Homo sapiens: one gene and its partner. The protein of the gene in region 1 purifies or fractionates together with the protein of each later gene. This does not show direct contact. Each region holds a gene or a part of one and is shown on either strand. Other genes may lie near its edges. The genes, in order: ENOPH1 and PUDP.

Region 1 (3,823 bases):
GCTGTTGTTTGCTTTTTTGAGTTCTTCGGGAATTTAAAAAACACTTTCCCATTTCATCCTTTTATCTGTAGTCCCTTTTTACTGTCACTAGTGGCTGTCTGTTCAAAACTATCCTCCTTTCCACATAGATTGTTGCTTCTAATCTGCTGTGAGCCTGGAACTTGGGCAGTATGTTTATTAGAACTGCAGGAGTTTGTAGTCTCAGGGAGCTGCTTCTCAGGTTACCATGTGGGCACAAAGAGAGAAACATATGGCATCTGTTTTGACAGGTTTTTATCTGGCTAGATGAGGTGTTCCTGTATTTTAACTTAGTGGTCTTCCCTCTAGGTTCTTTGCAGATGTAGTTCCAGCAGTCAGGAAGTGGAGAGAGGCCGGAATGAAGGTGTACATCTATTCCTCAGGGAGTGTGGAGGCACAGAAACTGTTATTCGGGCATTCTACGGAGGGAGATATTCTTGAGGTAGGTTACCTAGTTTACTTTGTTGTTTTGACGCTATCAAAGCATAAAATAATGAATCTTAATGGAAAACTAATTGGAACTAATAGAATGCTTTTTTTTTTTTGGTTGTTTAAAATTAGGTAAGAAGAAAATAATCACTTTTAATTATATTGTATTTACAGTTTCTTCTATATAAGGTTGTTATATAAAGTTTATTCTGTGTCTTGAAAAATAAAATCAGTTAGGATGCAAAATAGGATTGTGCAGTCCTGAGAAATATATAAAGACTTTTTGAATACAGCAGAGAACAAGGTGCACTCATTTGTTTCTGGCTCTTTGAAGAAATATAGATTTCATTTAAGAAGAACCAGCATTATTATAGGAGAACCAGGCACATTTTTAAATGTAATAAGGTCGTCACCTGTTGCATTTCATGTACATGAGAAAATTCTTGCTAGCCCCTCTGTGTCATCATCCCTGCACCCCCTGGAGGATGGGGTGATCAGTGAAAGAAGTGACTACATTTAGGGTTTTAAAAAGAAGTGCTGATTAGCTGAATATAGACCAAACTTAACAATAGGTAACTTGGAATATAGACTTAACTTAAAATAGGTTACTTACAATAGGTAACTTGACCAGATACTTTTTAAAAATAAATATTTACCGGCCGGGCGCAGTGGCTCACGCCTGTAATTCCAGCACTTTTGGAGGCCAAGGTGGGCGGATCACGAGGTCAGGAGATCGAGACCATCCTGGCTAACATGGTGAAACCCCGTCTCTACTAAAAATACAAAAAAAAAAAATTAGCCGGACGTGGTGGCGGGCACCTGTAGTCCCAGCTACTCGGGAGGCTGAGGCAGGAGAATGGCTTGAACCCAGGAGGCGGAGCTTACAGTGAGCTGAGATCGTGCCACTGCACTCCAGCCTGGGCGATAGAGTGAGATTCCATCTCAAAAAAAAAAAAATTTACTTATTTTAACTTACAATAGGTAACTTGAATATAGACCGAACTTATAATAGGTTACTTACAATAGGTAACTTGGCCAGACAAGTTTTTAAAATAAATATGTATTGAGCACCTACCATGTGCAAAGAACACTTTGGCTTTGGAGGTTGTAATATTCTAATTTTAGTATTTTCCTACTTTCTGTCTTATTTTTAAATCAAATATTAATAATGAAACCCTTTAATCATTGGTGACTGTTCTCTTAATACAGATACAACTTCTTTTCTGCTCTCTCTGACAATCATGACAGGACAAAAGTACCTACTGAGTTCACTAATAAGAATTTTACTCTCTAGTTACCAAGTGAGGCAAACTGCAAGAAAAAGAAAATAAGCAAAATCAGTTTTAACTTTAAAAAAAAAAAACTTAAAATTACTTTTTTTTTTTTTTTTACCTTCCCATTGGCCAAACCCAGTTTGAGTGCTTACTATGCTTGTTTTTAGTTTGTGAAAAGTTCTGAAAACATTCAAAAGATCACATCTTAGTAACTGACCCTAAATATGGACTTATTTTAATTACTGTTGGTCAAATTAGCAAGTTACAGATTTGACTCCAATTGTTTCCAAGAGGGCAGAGACATAGACGAGCCCTTGGGTAGAATTTCAAAACGTTTTAACTAGAAAATGAGAATTTCTTGTAAGTAAAATAATAGCTTATTCATGAGGCAGGTTAGAGAAATTTTTTCATCGTAAGATTAAAGGACAGTGTTCAGAATCTTTCATCAGGAGTAAAATTCAATCCAGTGAGTAGTTTGAGTGCAAATCATCTTTAAGGGTAGGATGTAGGGCATGTTTATTTTAAACTATTTCAGATGTAAAATGAACGGTAGTGAAAACCAGGTAGATTATGAAATGATCTTATGTATGTTGAGCTGGTAGTTTTCTTCTTCCAAATGTCTGTTGCTATAAAATCTTTATTTTTACTTTGTATAGCCTCCATAAAGTTCCCTATTAAGTAGATTTTCAGAAAATACTGAACGAATGAAGTAATTGTGATTGTCATGTATTTCAGAGAAAGGCATGAGGGGCATGCAAGTGTATTTGTATTGCCAGTCTTTCCCCTTCTCTTTGTTCAGCTTGTTGATGGTCACTTTGATACCAAGATTGGACACAAAGTAGAGAGTGAAAGTTACCGAAAGATTGCAGACAGCATTGGGTGCTCAACCAACAACATTTTGTTTCTGACAGATGTTACTCGAGGTGAGTAATAGACTTCTTATATTATATACTCCAGGATATGAACTGAGCCTGGCACTACAAATACATTGCCTCTTTAAAGAAACTTTATATGGGGATCCTTGAAAAATAAAACAGTTTTACGGTTTTATATAAAGAAACAGTGTCTGGTTCAAGTTCATGTTTGAATTAAAAAAAAAAAACACAGCAGTGAAGGCAGGCTTGGTGGCTCATGCCTGTAATCCCAGCACTTCTGTGGGCTCAGGCAGGAGGATTGCTTGAACCCAGGAGTTCGACACTAGCCTGGGCAACAATGTAAGACCTCTGTCTCTACAGAAAAATTCAGAAAGTTAGTTGGGTATGATGGCTCACTCCTGTGGTCCCAGCTGCATGGGAGGCTGAGGCAGGGGCATCAGGTGAGCCCAGGAGGTCGAGGCCGCAGTGAGCCGTGTTTGTGCCACTGCACTCCAGCCTGGGTGACAGAGCAAGACTGTCTCAAAAAAGAATGAACCAACTCTGGGGGTTGCATGTGGGGAAGTGGCATTGAAAAGACTAACTCTTCTCGTTTAACTCCTTGTCCGTGATTTCCCAGCCATCGCTATGTACACACACACACACACTATGACACAGGAAATTAACAGGAAGACTTAGAGGAGTTGTCATGGGAAGGAGCATGCAAGCGGGGTTGTGAGTATAAGGGGTAGGTAGTTGAGCCAGCCAGTTCTGGGATTAAATGCACAGTTCCATTTGTGATCCCCGGACCTTTGCTCTATCTCAATATTAAGAATTATAACCCCTGTCCTTAGACCACTTATAGTTTCTTCATATTCTTGTGTTTAGCCACTTAATTTTTGTATTTGGGATCACATAGTACATCTATAATTTCAGATCTTTCTCTTCTCATTTAAGCCATTTCCTCAGTTGCAATTGTAGAAATTATTCCTAATTTTGGAGAATAGAAATAATCCCTAAATTGGCTTCAAAATGAAATTAGCTCCCTTTGATTCTCTGTAAGGAGGTTTTATTCCTGCCCTTCATCTTCTGCTGGCCCCATACACACTTAGGCCAGAACTTGGGTCATCGGCAGCTGGGATGAGGCAGGGAGCTGTCTGCCTGCTTGCTCTTTTCTCTCTGGTCCTGTTTTGGTACCACATGCCCAGACTTCCACTGCTGAGGCAGAATGAAAAACTAAGTTAATATCCC
Region 2 (3,823 bases), on another chromosome or scaffold:
AGTACAGAGAATGTTCAGGCTTGTAGGGTTCTGATGGCCAGATCACCCAACAAAAGAATGCCACGAACACCTGAGACCGCGCGGCAGCTGCCTGTCTTCTGCCTCTTTCCTTTGTTTAATCCTGTTTAATTGCACATCCCTGTTCTCACCCACCTTGGGTCTCTAGGATGGAGGAAAGCAGGAGCGTTTCTTCCCACTCACAGTGCTGATTCTCCACATTCCCCAGTTCTTCCCCTGGAGATGTGTCCTGTGAGCTGATTGTTTGGAGCAACAGATACCTAGATATCTGTCTCTCTGCCCTTCCTGTAAACCCACGGAAGCACACCAAATTCTAGGAGCTGGGAACTGGAGTTCATTTATACACATAATTAACCAGCTTCTCCCTAGAACAGAACTCCATTTGCATTTTTTCGTCTTTTACTTCTCAGGGAAAGCCACTGAGTGAGACAAAGTTTGTGTGCACTCTTTAAAAGATGAAAAACTTTGTGAAGGCATCAGGCAGTTTTGAATCAGGTGATTAGGATCGTTCATTCCTGATGATACACTGGAGCTATATCTGATGATAACGACACTACCTAACATTTATCTGGGGCTTCCTCACCCATGTCATTTTCCAGGCATTGTTCTTCTTGTGAATTAATTCCATGAGGAACGTTAATCATTGCTCTTTGACAGATGACAAAATTGAGGCCCAAAGAGGGCGTATAATTGACGGATGTCCCGTAATCTCTGACTGTGGTCATAGTCTTGTCTTGGCTTTCATCTTCATAGGAGTCCCAAGCATTTTGGAGATCTCAGTATGTTGTGGTGGTGTAAAGCAGTCGTCCAAAACCGTTTTTGATTCATTCTCCATCAATAAGAATGTTGAGCTGCATTCCAGTCTAGACACATTGGTGTGTGTTTGTTTATCTACTCCACCTTAGAAATAATTCACAGCAATAGAAATGCAAGAAGGATAAGCTAAAATAAAATAATCGGCCGGGTACAGTGGCTCACATCTCTAAGCCCAGGGCTTTGAGAGGCCGAGGCAAGAGGATTACTTGAAGCAGAACTTCAAGACTAGCTTAGCTAACATAGGGAGACCCTGTCTCTACAAAACATAAAAAAATTTACCAGGCATGGTGACATGCACCTGTAGTCCCAGCTATTCGGGAGGCTGAGGCTGGAGAATCGTTTTGAGCCCAGGAGGTCAAGGCTGCTATGATTGTTTGACTCTGCTCCAGCCTGGGTCACAGAGCAAGATCCTGTCTCAAAACAATAATAATAAAATAATCTGTTTAAGTTTTTAAAATTAATAGCACCAAAGTACTTTAAGAAAATTTTTATACAGTGTGTTTTACAGAGCCATGTGTTTAAGTGTGCTCCATTTTTTAAAATATTGGTTTAAAATTGTGTGATCTAGCAATTTAAAAATCTTGTTTTAAATTCAGATTGTTTTGATACTCAGCTTTAATCACTGTTTATATCCAGACAGAAGTTCATGATTGGCTAATTTTTTTTTTTTTTTTTTGAGATGGAGTCTGGCTCTGTCACCCAGGCTGGAGTGCAGTGGCGCTATGTCGGCTCACTGCAACCTCCACTTCCTAGGTTCAAGCGATTCTCCTGCCTCTGCCTCCCAAGTAACGGGTTACAGGACGCACTGCCACACGTGACTGTCTCTTTTTTAAAAAAATTAGAGCCTTTTATCTCATCCATCAGTTAGGTTAAGGTTTAAATTGAAATTTAGCTAATAAATATAGTCCTCTGTGATACTAATCAGTGGTTGTTGCAAACTAATGAAATAGTGTGGCATTTTAGTATTTTTAACTAATGGATTCAAGTTCTGTAGAAGCTCTTTAGGTGGAGTACTTCTACACTGATTGAATATTGTTTTTATGCGTGGAGGTATGTGTATGTATGTTCATGAGATCTGTCGTTTTCTTGTCTGGCTTTTGTCTGGTTTTGGGATCAGGGAAGTGCTGATGTAAAATGTAAAATGAGTTGAGAGGTGTTCCCTCCAATTTCCTGAAAAGTCTGTTTAGAATTGGCATCCTTTTTTTCTTGGGAAGTTGGTAAATTTACCAGCAAGGCCATTTGATCCTAGATGTGGGAAGGAGGTTTTTAATTACAAATTCAATTCCTTTCATAGGCAGAAGGCTATTCAGGTTATTTGTGTCTTCTTGAGGGAGTTTTATATCTTTCAAAGAATTATCTCATTTCATCTAAATGGTCAAATGTGTTGCCATTAATCCTATAATAATTAAGTTTTTATCATTTTATCGATGTTAGAATCTGTAGTGATGTCTGTCCCCTCTTTCCCTGCTAATGTTAGTACATTTGGATCTTCTTTATTTTTTTGATCAGTTTAGCTAGGAGTCTACTAATTTAATTGCTCTTCTCAAACAACTCGCTTTTGATTTAGTTGGTTTTCTGTATTCTACTTTTATTTCATTGATTTTCTCTCTCATGTTTATTATTTCCTTCCTTTTATTTGTTTTGGGTTTAATTTGCTCTTTTCCTTCACTTTCTTAAGGTAAAAGCTTAAATCATTGAACTTCTTTCTTTCAGGTTTTCAATGTGGCAACTTAGATCACTTATTTGAGACCTTATTATTTAACATATCACTCAATGCCATCAGTTTTCATCGAAGCAATGTTTTAGCCACATCCCAGAAATTTTGGTAGTTTTTAGTTCTCTACAAAATATTACCTAGTTTCCCTTTGTGATTTCATCTTTGACCCATGTCTTACATAGAAGTGTAACATCCAAATATTTGTGATTTTCCACATTCCTATTATTAATGTCTATTTTAATTCTACCATCGTTAGATAAGGTATTCTGTATGATTTTAAGTATTTTATAATTTTTGAGAATAGTTTTATCCTTATAATAGGATATTTCTTGTTGAATGTTCCACGTGCACTTAAAAATAATGTGGTTTCTGCTGTTGTTGGGAGAAGTATTACATAAACGTCAATTAGGTCAGGTTGCTTGACAGTGGTTCTGAAGTCTGCTGTGTCCTTACTTCTTTTCTGTCTACTTGTTTTATCAATTACTGATAGAGGAGTTTTAAACTTCCTTCTACGTTTGTGTTTCTCCATTCAGTTCTATTGGTTTTTGCTTTATGCATTCTGAAGCTCTGCTATTTGATGTTTACACATTTAGAATTATGTCTTATTGATGAACTGATCTATTTGTCATTATGAAATGTCCCTATTTATCCCTGATGATAGTCATTCATTGTTCTAAAGGCTTGTTTGTTATTAATGTAAGTAACCTGGCTCTCTTTTGAGCAATAGTTATGTGGTATGTAGTTTTCTATCCTTTTATCTTCAATCTATCTGTGTAGTTATATTTAAAGTAGGTTTCTGTAGACAACATGTAGTTGGGTCTTTTGTTTTTCTTTTTTATTCTGATAGTGTCTATCTTAGGTGTGTTTATAATACTTATAAAGCCGTTACATAAGGTCATGATCTGCTAATTCCATCTGTCTCTATCATTTCTGTGTCTATTTCTCCTGATTGTGGGTGGTATTTGCTTCTTTGCAGCATGGTAATTTTTGATTGAATGTTAGACACTATGAATTCTACACCCAGTGGAGTGCTAGATTTTGCTTGATTTCATTTGCTTTATTTAACTTTGTCCTGGAACTACATTATGATCTGTCCATGCCTTCCTTTTAAAAATCTTTAGAGGGTCAGGTGCTCCAGATATCTGTTACCTTATCCTGAATGACTGTAGGTGTTCGGAAAAAATGAGTCTGTTGATTGTTTTGTGTAACAATTGACAAAGTAGGGACATTAAATCATGACATTATTAAAATAGGCATGATTATACAATTATT

What was found.
Region 2: the proteins of ENOPH1 (region 1) and PUDP fractionate together in Homo sapiens (co-fractionation; one large-scale study listed by BioGRID). This does not show direct contact.

What each region holds. Positions count from the first base shown.
Region 1 is NC_000004.12:82,454,395-82,458,217, forward strand, and holds part of ENOPH1 (enolase-phosphatase E1), read left to right. Parts: intron 1-327; coding exon 328-460; intron 461-2,520; coding exon 2,521-2,644; intron 2,645-3,823. UniProt on the Homo sapiens protein: Bifunctional enzyme that catalyzes the enolization of 2,3-diketo-5-methylthiopentyl-1-phosphate (DK-MTP-1-P) into the intermediate 2-hydroxy-3-keto-5-methylthiopentenyl-1-phosphate (HK-MTPenyl-1-P), which is then dephosphorylated to form the acireductone 1,2-dihydroxy-3-keto-5-methylthiopentene (DHK-MTPene).
Region 2 is NC_000023.11:7,078,606-7,082,428, reverse strand, and holds part of PUDP (pseudouridine-5'-phosphatase), read left to right. Parts: intron 1-3,823. UniProt on the Homo sapiens protein: Dephosphorylates pseudouridine 5'-phosphate, a potential intermediate in rRNA degradation. Pseudouridine is then excreted intact in urine.